Linked DNA regions of Homo sapiens: region 1 is linked to region 2. Evidence: fine-mapped expression QTL. A gene starts in region 2. The other region holds a variant in brackets. All regions are shown on one strand. Distances are from middle to middle.

Evidence for each region. PIP is the estimated chance that this variant, and not a neighbour inherited with it, causes the effect.
Region 1: its variant is the best candidate, but not a certain one, in a credible set for the expression of COBL in lung (TOPMed, PIP 0.51).

The regions. Positions count from the first base shown.
Region 1 is chr7:51,348,041-51,352,429 of GRCh38, reverse strand. No RefSeq gene overlaps it. Among named protein-coding and RNA genes, the nearest start is that of COBL, 33 kb to the right of the region's middle. The variant G/T (reference allele first, on the strand shown) is at 1,835.
Region 2 is chr7:51,314,219-51,318,607 of GRCh38, reverse strand. It overlaps COBL (cordon-bleu WH2 repeat protein), which reads left to right and starts at 1,799. Exons shown (of 13, transcript NM_015198.5): 1 at 1,799-2,015. The coding sequence starts at 1,975. It overlaps LOC124901633 (a long non-coding RNA gene), which reads right to left and starts at 1,624. Exons shown (of 2, transcript XR_007060324.1): 1 at 1,384-1,624; 2 at 276-561. RefSeq lists enhancers at 355-947, 948-1,541.

The sequences.
Region 1 (4,389 bases), 34 kb before region 2:
GTTCCATAGGAAGCATTGCATGATGAGTTAGTGCTGCCTGCAAGAGACATGGGAGAGAGGAGTGGGTCTAAGAGCACCACTGCTGGTACTCCCTGGTAGTGCAAAGAGGACTGCACTGGAATCAGATGACGTAGCACTGATGATGTTACAGAATGATGCCAGCGAGGAGGTGGATGGTTAGTTGTGGGTGGCCCCTTTATCATTTTAGAGTCCTCTCAATTCAGGATCTTTTCACCAGCCTTCAAGTGGAAGTTGTCATGTGTGTGTGTGAGCCCAACAGTTATTTGTTTAAGGAAACTAATTCCCATTAATCAAATTCACAAGAGGCCAGTGTAAAAACCAGATATCAACTTCTTAAATTATGTTGAGATATATCAATATTCAGAGAGATATAAATCATATCCAAGAAGATGTGTCTTTCCTTCTGTTGGAAAATTTATATGGAAAACAAATTATAACCAGAAAAAGAAAATGGGATCAGAGGCAGCTGATCAGACTGAAGGCAAAACCCATGGAGTTGAAGCGGCCTGAAACCACCATTTCCCCTGGGGAGGCTGAGCTTGCTGATTGGAATGCTGTCTCCTCTGCACAGAGCTGGAGAGATCTTACCAAGTCTGATCCCGTGGCATCGCTTTGTAGACTCTATGAAAGCACTCTAGTTGCTTCTATTAACCCTCTCTGCACAGAAGTTAATAGGCCCAAGATTTTTGTACATTCAGACGTGTCCATCCATCAGGGCGATTTCTGTAGACACACAGGTTCATACATTATGTGCTGATTTTACTTGCCACACTATCAGGATATCACTTGCAAGTTCTTAGGAGCACTTCACAATGCAACATCTTATACTGCCCACAATTTCTGGTTTAATCTGACACTAATTAGCTTTGTGACTTTGAGTAAGTCAATTCACCTTTTTGGACCAAAGCTATGGAACCCATAACATTTCAGCATATAGGGCAGGACATAGACAAGATGGATTCTTGAGGTTACTCCCAACCTGAGATCAATGATTTCAAGGAGAAAAGGCCTAGAACTCGAGCATTCACACAGAGTACAGCTAGGATTTACACAGAGACCACTAGAGTTGCGGCTACTCCTCTTCTTGGAACAATTACTTATGCGTTTTCTGTTCAAACTGTCTTAGGAGTCAGTTAAGTCACATGTGAGGAAATACACGTCTTGTCATACAATGGATTCTTTGTTTTTTTTTTTTTGGAGACAGAGTCTCGCTGTGTCACCCAGGCTGAAGTTCATTGGTGCGATCTAGGCTCACTGCAACCTCCGCCTCGCGGGTTCAAGAAATTCTCCTGCCTCAGCCTCCCGAGTAGCTGAGAGTACAGGCATGCGCCACCATGCCAGACTAATTTTTGTATTTTTAGTAGAGATGGGGCTTCATCATGTTGGTCAGGCTGGTCTCGAACTCCTAACCTTGTGATCTGCCTGCCTCGGCCTCCCAAAGTGCTGGGATTCCAGACATGAGCCACTGTGCCTTGCCCCACACAATGGTTTCTAAGATCAGTTTGGCAACTTATAGTCTATAAAACTTTGCTGCTTCATAACAATTATATAAGGTATTCATTATTGTTTATCCCTACTTTATAGTTAAGAAAAATCACATCAGAAGTTTTAAGCAAGTGCCTTAGTTTCCATTCCTGAAAATTACAAGCTGTGTGTCAAACCATTCTGACCTCAAACTCCATTGCTTCTGCCAGTAAACAAGGTCCACACCCTTCAGTTCTATTTGCCTTTTCACAATTTACAGGCCATTGCAGCTCAATTTGTTCATGTAATACTCTTTTAATTCAATATGGTCCATACGTACAGCAAGCAA[G/T]ATTTAAACACAAAAAATGTAAACAAGAGTTCAGTATACATTCCACACATGTCGCTCAGAAGCGGGGCTCTCCATGCTAGGAAAACATTCGCTAATGGAACATGCAACGGCTGCATGGGCCCTGTGTATCTGGAGTTTCCGGAAGGGAAGGATGCCAAGGCATACTTGACACCAGGGATCCCAAAAGTTCTTCCTTATGGATTGAAACTCAACACCTGCCTTCACAACGCACAGCCTGCCTATCCTTTTCCTTATTTGGAAGGTGCTATCACAGCTCATACTTGAAATATGAGCAGCCCTGCTACTGGACAAACAGTATTGTGTGTCATGGGAACATCAGATCCAGAGACACTGGGAGTGCTTATGTGCTCATTATGCTGTAAGGCTAAACTTAAGAATCTCCAACTTGGAGACCACTGGGTGTTTCAATGCACATACTTAGGGTCAAAGAAAAGCCAAGCAGGAAGTGTTGCCCAGCAGTTACAGCTGAATCAAGAAGCATAATAGGAAATATTTCCTCTTCTTCACATTTCATGAATGTAAACTGATTGGTTCATTAATAACTACTCCATCCAATCAAATCTATTTCTCTTTTCTTTGGAAATGTGCCTAAATTGCATCTGAGGAAGAGGAATGGAGTTTAATTACTACATCTTGTATGAGAGAAGTCAGACATCCTATGCCCTGTTATCTTCTCAAATTTTCTTCCACCGAAAGGAAAAGAGAAAGAATTTATAACACGTGCCCATTTACAAATACAAGTGAAAAATAAAATGGAATTTGAAAATGCATAATGGAGTATCTTTTATAGTGATATGACCACCAGTGATGTGAATACCAGATTTGCTTAACTCTCTACATTTGATAAGAATTGGGAAAGTACCCCACTGGTAACAATCCTAGCATATAATTTCTTGTTACATAACAGGCAATAGTTGTCCAAACCAGGATTGGTCTGGGAATGAGCGAGGTCTGAGATCATAAAACCTTCCCCTGGGCCCAGCACAGTGGCTCACGCCTGTAATCCCAGCACTTTGGGAGGCCGAGGCAGGCGGATCACAAGGTCAGGAAATCGAGACCATCCTGGCTAACACGGTGAAACCCCGTCTCTACTAAAAATACAAAAAAAAAAAAAAAATAGCTGGGCATGGTGGCAGGTGCCTGTAGTCCCAGCTACTTGGGAGGCTGATGCAGAATGGCGTGAACCCAGGAGGTGGAGCTTGCAGTGAGCCGAGATCGCACCTCCGCACTCTAGCCTAGGCAACAGAGCGAGACTCCATCTCAAAAACAAAACAAAACAAACAACAAAAAAACTTTCCCCTATACTATGAGGAGCTGAGGACAGAGCTGTGGAAAGGAGGTGGAGGCCAGCAACCATCACTTGCATGATTTTTTTAAATCTTTTGCTTTCAAAGTAAAAAATCTAATTTTTCAATTATTAATATCTCAGAGAATATTTATTCACGTGAAAGATAATTCATCTAAAGGTGTATAAAGAAAACAAATATTATAACCAAGTTTTTATTATAATCTTATTTTCAAATTATCTTGGACATTCAGAGTCTTTAACATAGGCTGTAAGAAATAAGCCAAACTATCTGTCTCAGATATATTTAGCATAAAACAAAGGTTTTAAAAATTTTTTGTGGCTTTTTTTTTCTGACAGAGTCTTGTGCTGCCACCCAGGCTGGAGTGCAGTGGCATGACAGCTCACTGCAACCTCTGCCTCCTAGGTTCAAGCGATTCTCATGCCTCGGCCTCCCAAGTAGCTGGGATTACAGGTGTCCACCACTACGCCCGGCTAATTTTTGTATTTTTAGTAGAGACAGGGTTTCACCATGTTGGCCACGCTGGTCTTGAACGCTTGGCCTCAAGTGATCCACCTGCCTCCGCCTCCCAAAGTGCTGTGATTATAGGCATCAGCCACCACGCCCAGCCTTAATTGCTGATTATTTCATATACCAACATAACCTTCAATATGAACAATTCATGCAATCCTTAGGATGGGTCCATGAGGCCAACATTTTTGTTCTCCTATTTTATAGATGGGAATTGCGGCTCCAATGGGGGCCTTTAGCACACACCCCCGGCCTGCACTAAGGGGCTAGTTCTCTGAGTAATAGCTTCACCCTGGAAGTTACACCCAATTATAAAATTATTTTAAGGCTGGGCACAGTGGTTCATGCCTGTAATCCCAGCACTTTGGGAGGCCGAGGTGGGTGGATCATTTGAGGTCAAGAGTTCGAGACCAGCCTGACCAACATGGTGAAACCCGTATCTACTAAAAATACAAAAATTAGCCGGGCATGGTGGCAGGCGCCTATAATCCCAGCTACTTGGGAGGCTGAGGCAGAAGAATTGCTTGAAGCCAGGAGGTGGAAGTTGCAGTGAGCTGACATCGTGCCAGTGTACTCCAGCCTTGGCGACAGAGTGAGACTCCACCTCAAAAAAAAAATCATTTTAAGATTAATATTTTGAAAGAAAATCATTAATTTGGGGAGTCTGTATTATTGGCTGAACCATAATCACATTTTCCGACATTTAGTAGGCATACT
Region 2 (4,389 bases):
TATTTATGTTTTTTATTCCATTTATATATAATGTATATACATATTTATAAGTTTACATAAATACAAATTTTATGCATTCATATAAACATGTCTATAAATATAACACATTACATGTAAACATTTCTTTATAAACTTACATTTAAATATAAACACACACATATATACACACATACACATATACACACACACATATATATATACACATACACACATACACACACACATACAGTGACAAATGCTCAGAAGAAAATTAGGACAAGGCAGCAGTCAGGAGCTTGAGTGAGAGCTGCTTTTATTTTGTGTTTTAAGACAGGATCTCACTCCATTGTCCAGCCTGCTCCCCACTCGCCGCCCCGCCCCGTAGCTGGGATTACAGGTGTGTGCCACCATGCTCCGCTAATTTTTTTATTTTGTAGAAAGTTCTCCCAGGTTGCACAGGCTGGTCTCCGACTCCTGAGCTCAACTGCTCCTCCGGCCTTGGCTTCCCTGAGTGCTGAGGTTACAGGTGTAAGCCACTGTGCTCCGCAGGGTGCTTTTAGACAGAGAGGCCAGGAAAGGCTCCTTGGGGAGACCACGGGATGAAAAGGAGGAGGAAGAGCACTGTGGAGCAGCATCCCAGCCAGAGGCCCTGAGCCGGGAAAGCGCTCCACTCATGGGAGGCTGGGCTGCAGGGAAGTGAGCCCCAGGGCCACCTGGGGACTTAGGAAACCTTCTAGGTGGGAGCAGGGAGCACCCAAGATCTGCCAGCCACGAGTAAGGACTCACATTTTGCATATAGACTGGTCTGCCCCCCCTTCAGTTAATGAGAAAGCAGGGGATCAGAGGGAGGAAGGCTGCGCAGGCCTCTGGATACCTCATCCAATGACAAGATCGCAAGGGGAGCGTCACCCCCAACGCTATCAGGCTCGCCCGATCTGGCCTCTTGTTGGTCTTTTATTCGAGTCATTGAAACCATATGAAACTGCCACTTTTATAGGTCAGCCCATCATACCAACCAAGATCTTAGAGAGTGGAGGTGAAGTTGGGCAGATAAGGGACCTCTGGCTGACTTGCTCTGGGCCCCGGCGTGGCCGGCAGGACCTGCATATCTGCCCGCCAGCCCGCACTGGAGTGGCAGGGTTGTGCCACAGTAGCGCCCAGTGAATCAGGTTGGCAAACTTAAGCGAGCATTCACCTAGAGCGAGTGAGTTGTTAGCAAAGCGAGGCCGCGCTCCAGCCCGCACTGTTTCTGATTCCGTGGGACCTGGTGGGCCCCAGAAATCTGCATTTCTAACAAGTTCCCAGGTGTTCCTGACGCTCCCGGTCGGGACTCCCACTTTGCGACCCTACGCACTAGACATTTGCTGCACGGATAAAGGTCAGAGAGCGGTGCCGGACACTCACTTCTCACCCTCCAACGTCAGTCCTCCCGGGCTGGTCCGCCCACCTCGCCCTCGCACGGCCTCCAGGCTCCAGGTGGTTCCCCTCCCCCAACTCCGCCAGGAGGCGCCGGCCCCGGGATCCCCCACTCCGCCCAGAGAGGGTCGCGCTCCCCCCAGGGGTGGAGGAGCACGGGGAGAAGCCCTCTGCCGCACCCGCGGGTGTCGGTGCAGGGCCCAGGTGCCGGAGGATTCCTTCCCCGGACGCTCGCCGCGGGCCGGGTCGGGACTCTGAGCAGGCGGGGCGGGGCGGGGCGGGGGCGGCGCTCCGGTGGGCGCGGCAGAGCAGCCGGGGCGGGGGCGCGGCGCACCTTGCTCCCGGCGCCCCCGCCCCGCGCCGCCGCCAGCCCCTCCCTGCGCTCCCGGCGCCCCCGCCCGCTAGAGACGATTCCAGCCCCTTCCGTCCGCCGCGCTCCGCCGCTGTCCTCCGCCGGCCCGCGTGGGAGGACGATGGGTCAGCGCGGAAAAAGTGAATGAGGGCGGCAGCGGTGGCGGCGGTAGCCAGCGCCTGACTCGGCGGGCCCGGAGCACCGCCCGCGTCCCGGCCCCCGGCACCATGGACGCGCCGCGCGCCTCGGCGGCCAAGCCCCCGACCGGGTAAGCGGCCCCGCGGTCGGGCGGGGTGGAGAGGGGGCTTCCCTGGGCTCGGACGCCCGCGTCCGCACCGCGCGCTCCCGGGCAGGGCGCCCTCTCTGCCGCCCCAGCGGGTGCTGGTGGTAGTGGTGGAGCAGGTGGTGCGGTGCTGGTGTTGGGTGCTGGTGTTGGGTGGTGGTGCGTGCTGTGTACTTTGGGCACCCGGGTCGTTGCCCAGGTAACCGTGTCGGGCCGGGGCCGGAGCGCACTTTTCGCGCGGGGTGGTTTGTATGCAGGCGTCCTTATGGGGGTCCCCGCCAGCACAGCCCCCACTCAGCTCCGAGCTTTCCTCAGGCCCCCCAAGTGTTTGCCGTAGGGGTGGAGCGGGGAGCGAGGGGACGCCCGGCCTTTGACTCCGGCCTCTTCCCTGCGGGCTTGCCCCTGGCCGGTTCCCATCAAGTCTTCCCTCTCCCGGCCTCGGCGGCAGCCCCAGGATCGGCTCTCCCGGCAGCGTGGAGGGGAGGGCTCCCCGGCTTCGCAGCCGCCCGGGCCCCGCGTTCTCGGAAGGTGTTCGGATTGCCCGGAGGGTTTCATGGCAGCAGCTCTCCCTCCCTGCCTTTATTCCAGGGTCTCCCCTGGCAGTGGAAGGGGCGTCCTAGTGGGGCCAGGCCTGAGGCGCAGACATCCGTAGCGGACCCGCGAGTCTGGCGGCCCATCCCTGTCTTCGCGATTCCGCTTTTGCCCAAACCTCTCCCGGTTTCTGTTTGCTATCCCCACACCTTGCGTGCAGGGATTACACGTCACATTCAGGATTTGACTCTCAGAAAGAGTAATTTCCCTCAAACAGGACGAGCAGCCCTGCTCATTATTCAGACCCCGAGCCAGGTGCGCCGTGCTCATCCCGGCCAGCGGTGCAGGCTGGGCCGCGGGGTAGCGCGCAGTCCCGGTGGACTTTGTAGTTTTCAGCGCGGCGCGCCGGGGACCTTCGAACTCGCTCGCTCGCCTGGAGCAAATGTGTATGAGTCTTGCAAATGGAATGAGGGTTGGGGTGAGCCCTGCACCTGCTTACTGAATGGGCCCACTTTCTGCTATGGCAACTGGACTTGAAGGAGGCAGCTTTGGGGACAACAAATCTTTTTTTCTGTTACAGTTGTGTCCCACTGACTCACCCTGCCCATGTGCCCATAGGCGGGCGTGTTGCCCAAGTGTGTAAAAGACTTTCAGTCGGGCTCTTTTTAAAATTTTAAAGTTTTCCTTTAATGCCAGGAAAAGGTGAGCCAGGTTAGCAAATCAAATAATCCTGAAGCTGAGGAATGTTAAAAAGAAGTTTTCTTTCTCTCTCTCTTTTTTTTTTTTTGCAGTGCACTTACTGGTGGTTATATAATTCTCTTTGAACAAACAAATTCCCCAGAAAGAAAGTAAATGTGGGAAATCCTTTTTCATGGTAATAGGCATCCCAAAATAACAGGGAAATGTGAAACAGAGGTATCTTTAAATCTGTGGCTTTCATAGCCTATTAAATGAGCCTATTTAAGGACACTGAATTATTTTGTCACTATCACCTTATAAATAAATATGAAGACAGAGAGAACATTTAAAAGGCCGGCAAAACTGTATCCAAAGAGTATCTGTAAGATCCTTGAAGGGAGTCTAATGATAGAAGTGAAAGGACTTACCCTAAGAGCGTGGCACTCTTTTCAGCCTGGTACTGTGTGGCAAGAGGTAGTCGAGGGCTGGCCTTCTCAGGGCTTCCCAGAGCTCTGATTGGCTTTCATATTTGAATTGCAAAGTAAAACTAAGGATTTTTGCTATGGAAAACATGAAATTATTCCTGATGCATTCAGTTCTTTCCCTCACTCATATCCAGTGTCTAATTTACTTGTCCGAACATCTTTGTCCAAGAAATGTAGACATATTATTTTTAACTTCTATTGTTCTCACTTTGTCATTTGTTAATACTTTCAGTGAAGAAGCATCAAGAAAATGTTAATATCCTTATATTTTTTCAGACAAGAATTACGTGTTTAATAAGCAATTTTGTGTTCAAATCTGAGGAGATAAATGGTGTTAGGTCTTCGAATATTTTATATAATTTAGGTGTATGCTTGCTAATTATAAAGGTTAGATATTGCTGTGAAATTTGTGGCTTTAGTACATTATTGGTGGCAGGCAGATTCTGTTGGCTCTTCACTGAGATTACTCCTCTGTTCCCTGAGATTAAGGCAGTGTTTGCAGTGTGCTTGAGGGAAATTTGTTTTCCATCTGATTCTGCAACCGTTTATTATAAAATCAAACTTTCAGTAAGCCTCTGTCTTCCCACATGATAACAAACTGATGTGGTGAAGCTGTTGCTGTTGCTGAAACTACCACTCCTCCTTGTGTTGTATAGAAACAAGCT